Regions from separate parts of the Homo sapiens genome. Here region 2 is linked to region 1. A link means that fine-mapping ties the variant in region 1 to the expression of a gene that starts in the linked region. Tissue or cell type: cerebellum. Region 1 holds a variant in brackets; the other region holds the start of a gene. All regions are shown on one strand. Distances are from middle to middle.

Region 1 (5,736 bases):
TCACAGGCACACTTCCCTGACATTCCCTTCAGGGACAGTGGGCCTAGTATCCAAGCAGGTGTTGGAGGAAATCCAGGGGAGGGGCCCTCCAAGCTCACACCCCACCCCCTGCTGTTTACCCTGTCCCCTTGCACTGTGATAAGCTGCCCCTCAGGCGTCCAGGCAGCAGCCCTAGCTGAGGCTTGGCCCAAATGACCATTACACACTCTCAGGTTCAAACAACCTTATTGGCTCAGTTCTGGGCTATGGTTTCTTACCAGCAGAGAGTGTGTGTCTATGGGCTTGACCTTCAACTGAATGATTATTAATGATGCAAGCATTGCTAATACCTTTGCGGCTTAAACATGTGGCAAATGTTGCTTTAATAAAGTCACGGAAGGACAGAGCCCTGGTCTGGCCCAGGCCCCCTGGCTGGCAGCCGGAGAGGCTCAAATCGGAGGCTGTGCCCATGGCAGCTGATCCATTCCTGGGGATCAGCTTCACCCTCCTGAAACTGACCTCAGCTGCAGAAACAGCTAAAGGGTTCCTCTTAGACTCAAGATCTCCCCCTCTCCTTCTCTGTCTCTGAGGCTAGGTACCTTTGGTTTCAAAAATGCATTAGGTGGGGAGGATGAAGGCAGCACCTTCGGTCTGAGAACTGCAGGTCTGCGAGTGTCTCCATTTGGGGTGACTGGTGAGGACGTGTGTTGAGTGGCCACTTCTGGTCCTGCCGGAACACTTGCATAGGCTGCCCTGCTCTCCTGGAGATAGACGTTGCTGGAGGCTTCAAGGCTTGCAGGGGGGGAGCTGGGAACCTGGGAACTCCAGGGACAGATCAGCGCTGCATAAGGCATACAAAGAGCATTGAGTCCTCCCTAGGTGGGGGCATCACAACACTGAGTACGGTGCCACCTCAGGGTCCCCTGATATGTATACACCCCAATGAAAGGGCAGACCTGCTCAGTCTTGGGGCAAGTCCCCATCCACACACCATGTCAAACAAGAGCCTCAGTGTCCTACAGAATTGGCTGAGAAGATGATATCTGCTAGAGATGGAAGGGGAGCAGTGCCTTATGCCCCAAACACACCAGCAAAGCTTTTGCATCACAGGGTTCCATCTCCTCGAGGGTGGCAGCATGGGCCCTGGCCACGTGGACAGGTGCCCTCTACTCTGGACAGGGTGGGTGTGGCCCTCTATCTACATCCTGGGTTTCACCAGTGAGGAGGCATGAAGTCCAAACCCAGCCTTTTTCTTCTCTCTAGAAGTGAGCACAGTGCCCCCAAGACCAGACACCTGATTTTCTTCTGCTGGAGGTACACAGTCACTGGCGTTGAAGTCCTTTCTATCAGTGCCCACTCCTGTTCCTCAAACGTCTTCAGAGTCAATGCAGCTCACATCTTAGATATTCCAGAGAAAAGGGCAGGGGAGGAATGAGGAGCAAGAGGTAAACACACCTCCCAACCAAACCAGAGAGCAGCAAGGAGGCCTGCGCACCTTCTCCCTGCCAAAAATACTGTCATTTTCCAGAAAGGAGCCAAGCCCAGCTCAGCAACTGACAAGGCCGAGGCAGAGGGGCTGGGGGCCAGGGGAGGCATATGGCGAGAAAGGCATCCTTTGGAAATGCATTGGCCCAGAGGTGGTTTGAATATTACAGCCTGTCTACGTGTTCTGGTATGGATTCAATCCTTTTTGCCTATCTTTGCAAAAAGGATTCTCCTGGGGGAGAATCCACTTATTCTTTCTTTTCCAGGGACTCTTTTTCAAAAGGAAAAGAAAACAGAGACATTGGGTCTGGAGGGGAAGATGCACAAAGCGAAATTAAGACAATGAGAAGTCCCGTAACCAACAGAAAAGGTGAGCGTGTGCCGAGGCCAAGGGCGGACAGTGTGGTGGAACGCTCGGGGTGGCTGCGAGACCGGGCAAGGGGCCAGGCTCCCTCCAGCTGAGCTCAGCCACGGCTCCAGCTCTCCCACACTGGTGGCACCCGGGGCTGAAGGGGGGTCATTGGGAGGGGGCTTGTGGGTGGCTTGGTGGCTACTGGTCCTCACAGCTTGGCAGACCCCCATATCGTACCCTTGTTACTGAAGGTGGTGGTGGCTTCGTGGTAGGTCTGCAGTGGTTTTGTCTCCCCTTCTCCCCTCCTCCCACTTGCAAAGTGGTGGCTGTGCCTGGGTGGGCTCCGTTAGGCCAGAGAGTAGATAGCATTGACAGGTGACGTGGCCTCTGAGCTTTCGTTGCCCTCTGTTTCCTCCTTGTCCTTTTTGACCGTGTACTGGCCGATGAAGGAGCCGTCTTCATTGAACTGACCCTCGCCACCCTCGCCATAGTCCACCAGGCTGTCGTCACTCTCCTGCTGCTTGATGGTGCCGTCCAGAGATGTCTGACTGCCCTGCAGGGGCTTGTTGTCCTCATCACTGGCCAAAGAGAGACAGAGAATCTCAGGTGGGGTGAGATGGGGCAGCTGGCCTCCTGCCAGCACATGCCCTACACAGCTCAGAGAGGATGGGATCCAGGAGACCGCCCAGTCCAGCCCCCGCTTCACCCTCCCCTGTCCAGCCTGCTTTGCAGAAGGGAAATGGAGGCCTAGAGAGGACAAGCACCTTCTCTAAGGTGAGGTTGCAGGTCAGGGCAGGGCAGGGAGTGGAGCCCATGCTTTTGGGCTCCTGTTCTGGGTCTTTTCCATGAGATTGGGTCCCTGTGTGTGGTGGAAGTGGACAGAGGATGGCCACCCCATGGTGAGGCAGAGCCACTGCTTGTGAGACCACATGGAATGGTTCTAGTCCCGAGTGTGTCACTGTGTGGTTTTGTGACCTGGGCCTCAGTCTGTCCATCAAGAGGGGCTGGCCCAGCTTTGATCTCCCAAGACCTGTGACTCTGTAGGGAAACACTCTCGCCTTGACAACAAGCAAGGCTTTTAAAGGAACAAACCTCTCCCTCACCTCTCTGCTTGTCTGTCTTGGTGTCTTTCGCTGAGCTATCTGGTTGATCTATAAAAAGATGTTATTGCTTTGGGCCTAGCAAGCACAGGTGCGCAAGAGTGGTGGTGGTGGGGGGGCACACAGGTAAGCAGGTGATGCCAGCAAACGTGAGAAGACAGCAAGGCTCAGAGGATCATGCCCAGCCCCTTCTGAGGCCCATAGGCCCTGACCCTAAGCTCCCCTTGTGCAGGGAGAGCTGGGAGGCTGCCGAGTAAAGCTGCACGGGCCGCTGGGAACAGCCACCCAGTTGGGATGTCTGCTGTGCTCCTGAGGAGGCGCGGGGCTGCTCTCTGAGCCAG[C/T]GTCTGTTCAGGCACCATGTCCCTTCCCTTGGCTGGAAAGGCTCAGAGTGGGGACCAGGTGGTGCTGGCTGCACTTCAGAGGTTAGCCCAGTTCCTGGGCAGGAGGCAGCTCAGGATGAGCAGTGGGAGTCTGGGTCTGAGCAGTGGGAGTCTGGGTCTCAGTGGTGGGACCATAGCGGTGCCAGGCGGTCTGAGCAGACACACACCACACACTGCCTTGCCCCCAGCTCCCCACCCACCCCCAGTCCTTCCTGGACGTGGGGAAGACAACCAGCTGAGTTGCCATTATAGTGGGCAGTGCGTTCTCACTTCTAATAGCAGTGTCGGGCAAAGACAGCTGTCAGGTGAGGGCAGCGAGCCAGAGCCGGGGCTGTGTTAGAAGATTGAAAGCTATTAGCCCACTCCCCACAGTGCTGCCCCACGAATACAGCCTAACTGTATTCGTGGGACAGCCGTGGGTTGGGAGATGGTGTGAGGGAGGCAGCTCTCTGGGGCTGTGCTGAGTTTGTGCAGGAAGCGGAAGTCACTGTTTGCCAACTGGAGGAGGGAAATCGCCAGGCTCCTCACCCCACTTGCAGGTCTTATTCGCATGCACTCCTTTCCAGGGCCCTCTATCCCATGTGCAGGGGCATGAGGACTGTGCTATGGGATTTGTGGGAATTCCTCCTCTGTTTCCAGGCAGCTAAGCTAAGTGCAGCCACTGGGCAGCAACAGCCCAGCCAGTGGAAGGGGCGGGGGAAGAGATCTGTAGCATGCCAGGCTGTTGAGGGGACGGGGGATCTAGGTCTGAAAAGAACAGACCGAACAGACCTCTCCTAAGGGAAGCTTGAAAGAAACTAGAATGACTAGGGGTGGCCCTGGTCTGGCCACCTGTCAGCCTCACTTCTGAGACATCTTCAAGGTCTAGGTGGATGGATATAGGGGAGAAAAACAGAGGGTGCCCCATGGGAAAGGTGGTCGGCCACTTAGCCACAGACTGGAGTGAGAGAACAGCACTCCTCGCCCCTAGGCCTATCCTCTCTAGAAACTTAGTTCTTTCTCTGATGTATTAATTTCAGCCTTTTCCCAGGTTAGGGCTCTTAGACTCATCCAAGGGAGGGCTCTAGGATGGATGCTGCGGACCTTCCAGAGCCAAAGCAGAGGGGTGTGTGCGTGTAGGGGTGCAGGCCCAGGCATGCTCCTGTGCGTGTAGACCCAGGGTCAGTGTCTGCGGGGAGGAGGCAGGGGTTTTTGCCTGACAGCTTTGGTGTCTGGGGCAGGAGAGGTGCATAAGGAAGCAACTCCTCGCAGTACAGGCTGCCCAGCCTTGTATTGGAGGAGGTCCAAGCTCCTCCTCTCTGGCTGCACCAAGAGTCTGGGGGAGGAGAAGCCCTGTGGCTTTTGGAACAAAAAGCCAGGGAAGTCTCAGCCCACAGGGAAGCTGTGTCAGGGAAGCCCTGCCAGGGAAGATGGGAAGGGGGCTCTTGTGCCTGCCCTTTCAGGATGCTTCTGGGAATGTCGGGACTAGGTGGACAGTCATGGCCCATAAGCCTGCAGACAGGCTCCTGTGTGGGCAGTGGCTCCACCACACATTGATCTGATTGTGCTTGCCAGGCTGATGGGCAGAGTGGCAGAGGCCCAGGACAGGAAAAGGAGACTGTAGCAGAGGACAAGGGGACCTGGGCCCAGGCAGTAACTGGGTGGCATGAGGAGGGAGGGCTCTGATCAGACATTCCCTCCCATAGCACTTGGTCTGGGAATGACACTCCACAGCCCACTCTGCATCATCCTTCAGCTCAGAACATACTCGCCATCTCCATGGACCCACAACAATGTTGTTAAGCCCACATACAAAGATGCATCCAGGTAGGACAGGAGCATGGGTATAGAAGTATAGAATAGCAGCACCAGCTGGAAATGCGGGACCTGGCCTTTCCAGCTTTGCCACTAACTCACTGGGTGGGGACCTTGGAAGAGTCTTAGACAATTCGCTTCCTGGTCTGGGCCTCAGTCCTCTCATCTGGGGCATAGGGCACTGGACCAGAAGCCTTTCCAAGGCCCATTCCAGTCTAGAGCCCAAAGATATCGCCAAGTTCAAGGAGAAACGACCTGGAATCACCCCACCTTCATTCCTTGAGGCTTTAAGACATCACAGCCTCCCAGGGTCATTATCTTCAGGGTTAGGAATGGAGTGTGGGCAGAGAATCAGCATGAGAGCTGAGCTCATCTCACGGCAAGAGGGTCCTGGGGCTCATGTTCAGAGTGAAAAGGTGGAAAGACATACATAGCAAGCTTGATACATTTGAGTTGTGCAGTTGAATGAATGAAATGCTGTTCGTCAAACTAATGCACGCATGTGTCGGGCAGTGACTCCTGGGGGAGCAGCCTCGTCTGGCACTCTCAGGATGAGAAGCCTCTGAGTAAACTCAGCAGCATGCACTCTCCACCACAGCGCCACCAGAGAGGCAGAGTCACAGCCCAATGGGCAAGGACAGCTACT
Region 2 (4,819 bases), 28 kb before region 1:
AGCCTCTGGGTGGTTTGTTTAGATTGGGGTTGTAGTCCTGAAGGATGAGGGGGTGGCCAGCATGCATGAGGGGATGAAAAGGATGTCTGCCTTCTTATGGATTCCTGAGTCACATCCACCTTTTACCATTTGAAAGAGGATTACTAGAAGTTGGAAGAAATTTACAGGGTCAGCCAGCCCAACCTTTGCCTCTAGGCAGGACTCTCTAACCTTGGACCAGACCCCAGTTCTCCACACCATCCTTAGAGTCATCTGAAAGGAGACTGCCCCACCTCCTCATGGCTCACTCTTCTAGCCAGGAAGTGTCTCCTGCAGTCTAACTTAAGTCCCTCTGGCTTCCCTGGCATATTCTTTGCTCTGGTTCTTCCTCCCCTGCATATCAATCACCTCTTCTCCAACCCCCTGGTTCTGCCCTAGGAATCCCTCCAAAAATACAAATACCACCCACACTCAGGCTTAGAGATTGTCTTTGAAATACGCTTTCTCACCAACGTTTGGCTCAAGGAGGTTTCTGAAGAGGGCACCATGCATCCTCCAAACCACCCCAAATGCGTTGCTTCCCTGGTGACTTTAGAGGCAGAAAGGATGCCTTGGGGTACACCTGTCTATGTACATGCTCCTAAGGAGTAAGTTTGGTCAGCCAGAGACGAGATGTGCAATCACCCCGTTAAGCACAATTCCTCGGAGGCCCATCCCACATGTGTCTCTATTTGAACAACTGCTGGCAGAGAAGGTGCTGGAATGGAGTTGCATAAGGAGTGAAATCTGGCAGGGGAAATGGTGGCGGCGGGAGGCTGAGGGCTGAAGCCGGTGGAGTACACGCGATGAGAGAAGGGAGTGCGAGGAAAGAAGGAGTAGAGGAAGGGAGGAGAGTAAGAGAGAAAGAGCCGGGAATGAGAGCAGACTCCTGGAGTCTGAGGCACTCATCTGCATAAGGAGTGTGCCTCTGCTTCCCTCACCGCTCATGGTGTGAGCACAGTGGTCTCTGCACCTGTGAGGCAGGTGGACCTTGGGTGACTTTGACATCATCAGGTCAGGGGCCCTTTCCTGTCTGTCTCACCTCCTGCCTCCCTCTTATTCGCTGAGGACTTCCACGGGAGATTAGGAAGGACTCTGACCTTGTGGCAAAAGCCCTGTCCATGGTTCTGCAGCTTGGCTAGAAAGGGGTTAACTGGTGGGCACCCTGGGGAGGGGCTTGGATGCTGCTGTCTTTAAGGGGAGAGCTCCCTTCTCCCAAGGCCAGGAGTGAGGGCACCTGTTGTGACCTCCAGGCCATCTCCCTGTCCAGGTGCGATCACAGCAGCCTCTCCCACAGGTGGCCCACCTTTTGCTGCACTCGATCTCCAGTGGCTCATCCGGCCCCTCTGAGTGGGACCAGGAGGTAGAGAGACTCGGAGGCTAAGTGAGCTGAGGCGTCTTTGGCCAGACGGTTGGGAGAGGAGGCCGAAACTGTTGCCCAGACGAGACCAGAACATCACCTGTGCACTGGGTTTCTTGGGCTGTTCCTCCTCCCAGCTCCTTCTGAGCAGAGGGAAAAGATGCTGAAACCCACCTTTCTCCAGGGCTGGGGCCATGGCATGCACAACCCCACTCCCTCCTGGCCTCACTGGACCCCCCCCCCCAGGACACAGGCTCAACCCCCAGGGGTCTGGGGCTAGAGGGTGCCCGTCTCCATCCCCAAGTAGCAGCAGGATTCTCCCCTTCCATAGGCACTGCCTTCTCCATGCCCCGCTGCTTCCCAGACCTGAGAGACCCTCTTGGAGAAGGTGACAGGATTCAGCTCTGGACACTCACTGGCTGGGGCTGCCCCCCACCTCCAGCCCATTATGTAAGCCCCACGGTGCTGGGCAGAAGGATTGCCCTCTCTTTCCAGAACTCCCCAGCTCTGCCCCTTCCCTTCCCCATACCATTCTGGCCCCAGCCCCTTTCCTTACTGGAAAGCCAAACTTTGTGCAAATTCTTCCCTCCCACCAGTGAGGATGGGGGGGAGGGATTTGAGGAGAAGCTAAGGTTGGGAGGGGGAAGGGAAGGAAAGGAATTTCAGCCCGGTAGCCCCAGCCTCTCGCCCTTTGGGATGTGACTGGCCTCAGGACTCTCCTCCCCGAGTCCCAGTTCCTGGACAGGCCCTTGCCCAAACTTGTGCTCCACTCTCCCCTCTCTCTTCCACAGCCCCCCTCTCCATCCAGCTGAAGCAAGACTTTGCAAAGAGGTCACCCTGCAGAGGTAGACCCTGGGTGACCTCAAAACTGGGGACTCCGGCTCAATTCCATGCAGGGACTTCTGGGGCAGGCCAGGGCCCAGGGCCTGGCTGTATGGACTGGTCCTGTCCTGGACCGGGTGCCCAGGGCCGGCCCAGGAGAAACTGCCCTCTCCACAGGCAGCTGCCACTGCCCGCTGGCCAACTGGAATTCCTGGACACACTCCTGGGGTCCAGCTTTTCGGCCAGGCTCGGCCTGAGAGAGCCCTGCGGGATGCCGCCCACGTAGACAGGGCGGAGGGGAGCCCCAGCACCCACCCTGGGGCTGAGGGGAGAAGTCAGAACGGCCCCAGCCTGCCAGTGTTCCTGTCCCTGTTCCCTCCCAAGTTACAAGGGGGATATTTACAGGAACTGAGCCGGGAGCCCCGGCCCATAACAGCACGCAGGGAAGTCCCTGGGTTGGAGGAGACAAAAGCGGTTGGCACCTACCTGGGGCGAGAGAAGGGTGTTGGCTGGGGCAGGTGGATGCTGCCCGAGTCGGTGAGCCGGGGCCGGCCGGGCCGCCAGCCCCTGTCTGGGCCGCTGTCCTTTGGGCCCTGGCGGCCTCAGCCGCTCGCTGTCCGGGTGCGGCGGCGGCCGCGGCGGCGGTGGCGGGTGAGGGCGCGTGTGTGTGAGCGCGCCCGGAGCCACTGCAGCATCTCTGCATCAAGATGTGCTCCTCCCTCTCCCAGGCTCCGCTCACTGGCTGGCTCTGGTCCTCAGCCAACGCTCGGGGGCCCTGGAGATGGCTTCCTTCTGCCCCCCTCCCACCCCACTTCCGTCCCCACCCTCCTGGCTTTACCTCATTTGCTGTCATTTAAGGACCAGGGAGCGAGCCCAGCGCGCGTCTTCCATAATGCATGGGCCGCTCATGGACAGGCCGCGGGGCGCTGTCTGGCCCGCCTGCCCTCCCGATCCTGCCCAGCCCCACTTCTAGTCCCCCTGCCCAGGGCTGAAGGGGCAGGAGAGGGGCGGGGTGAAGAGGGAAAAGAAAGTGGCTCTTACTCCTCAAACCCTGGAGACCCATGGAGCCAAAACTCCTGGTTTCCCCAGAAATCCCCTATCCGAGGAAGAGATCCAAATCAGAAATCCCAGCTTGCTGTGTGGGGCAAGTGGCAGGGAGGGGCTGTCTCTGTTGCCCGGTCCACCCCATGTTCCTCTTTATTGTTTCCCTTGTTCAAAAGTAGTTTGAGCTTTTTGTCAAAATATCTAAATATTAGAGGACATTTAAAAATACATAGTGAAAGTCCCTCAACCACTACTCTTAATAAATCTAAGTACATGCCCCCAGGTTTATTATTTTCGTGTATACAATTACATGGGTTAGTAGGGTTATTTCACACAAATGTGATTACATAAAACAGTAGGATTGGCCAAAGACTTTTAACTGTGTAACTGATCTTGGACACTTTTACGCATCAGTACGTTTGGATCCAATCCCATTTTTAAGCAACCAGCAGTGTGATGTCATGAAAAGCTCCCTGGATTAGGGGTCTGGGTGTCTGAAGCATACTCTGGGCTCCACAACCGACTGGCTGTGTGTGCTTGGCTAGGTGCCCTGCCCTCTCTGAGCCTCGCTGGTACCTGAAGGGATTAAAGATGGACACAGTCCTGCCAGCTCTGAGATTCTAAGTGCTCACCCTTGTCAGCGATGCCTTTCTCCTGCCCTGCTCCGGTCACGTGGGGGAGTGCCCAGGAAGGCTGTGGCCCGGAGGCGGAGGGACCAGCCATCTGCGGCACCAGTCGGCCCTGTCAGGCTGTCACTGTTGTCTCACCCCCCTCTGATCTGCCTGCTGTCCAGCTTGCACAGGCAAGACCGGTGAGCAGTCCAGATGCTGCAACAGCTGGCAGGGCCAGGCCAGCCTCCCAGTTTTAAATGGCTATACCTGTCAAGCCTGGATCATGGCTCCATGTCTCCCTGAGTGGAGGAGGTCCTGGGGACCTGGGCCAGAATGAGAGGGTCTGGAAAAGGAGAAGGAGTCGGGGAGGTTCTGCTGCTCAGCCTCCAAGGCTGGAATGTCTGCCCAGGTCCCACATGCGCTCCCCTCCTTTCCTTCTGAGCCCCTCCAAAGGGCTTGCCCAACTTGAGAGATAGTCTTCTTTGTTCCTGATGGGGAGGACTTGGATTTTGCTAATGATGTTTCTTAAATAATGTTGAATGCTGTTATATAGACAGACACATCAACCCCTTGCCAGGATATCTTTCCCTTCCTTCCCCTGCCCACACTGTCCTTGCCTATCTGTATGTCTGAGGGCTGGCACATTGGCTCTGAGCTCCTGAGGTGAACCTTGCTCTTTGGCACCATTCAAGTCAGCCTGGGCTCCAAAGAGAGGCTCTGCAAGTTCTCTCCTAGCAGAAAACGGCAGGAACAAGTCCTTGCCAAGAAAAGGATGCTATGTCTGCTGCAGGGGGCTGACGGGCCAGGAAATAGGCTGGCCCAGGAACCAACAGTCTGGAAATGCTTGCAAGGATTGCTTTAGACGGAGACAGCTGTCTTTGTGACTCTATTTTAGGACAGCTGCTGCCCTGTGGTGGGAGCTGGGTCTCTGGGGAGGGTCGTTAGCACAGGTGACTTGGGTCTT

What was found. PIP is the estimated chance that this variant, and not a neighbour inherited with it, causes the effect.
Region 2: CNTN2 starts here. The variant in region 1 is fine-mapped to the expression of CNTN2 in cerebellum (GTEx, PIP above 0.99). The same link has a PIP of 0.9 or more in cerebellar hemisphere.

The regions. Positions count from the first base shown.
Region 1 is chr1:205,012,966-205,018,701 of GRCh38, reverse strand. NFASC (neurofascin) reads right to left here. Exons shown (of 30, transcript NM_001005388.3): 30 at 1-2,394. The coding sequence ends at 2,163. Among named protein-coding and RNA genes, the nearest start is that of CNTN2, 27 kb to the left of the region's middle. RefSeq lists enhancers at 1-717, 4,088-4,639. The variant C/T (reference allele first, on the strand shown) is at 3,258.
Region 2 is chr1:205,041,262-205,046,080 of GRCh38, reverse strand. CNTN2 (contactin 2) reads right to left here and starts at 2,869. Exons shown (of 23, transcript NM_005076.5): 1 at 2,687-2,869. RefSeq lists cis regulatory regions at 3,011, 3,103 and enhancers at 2,939-3,083, 3,031-3,175.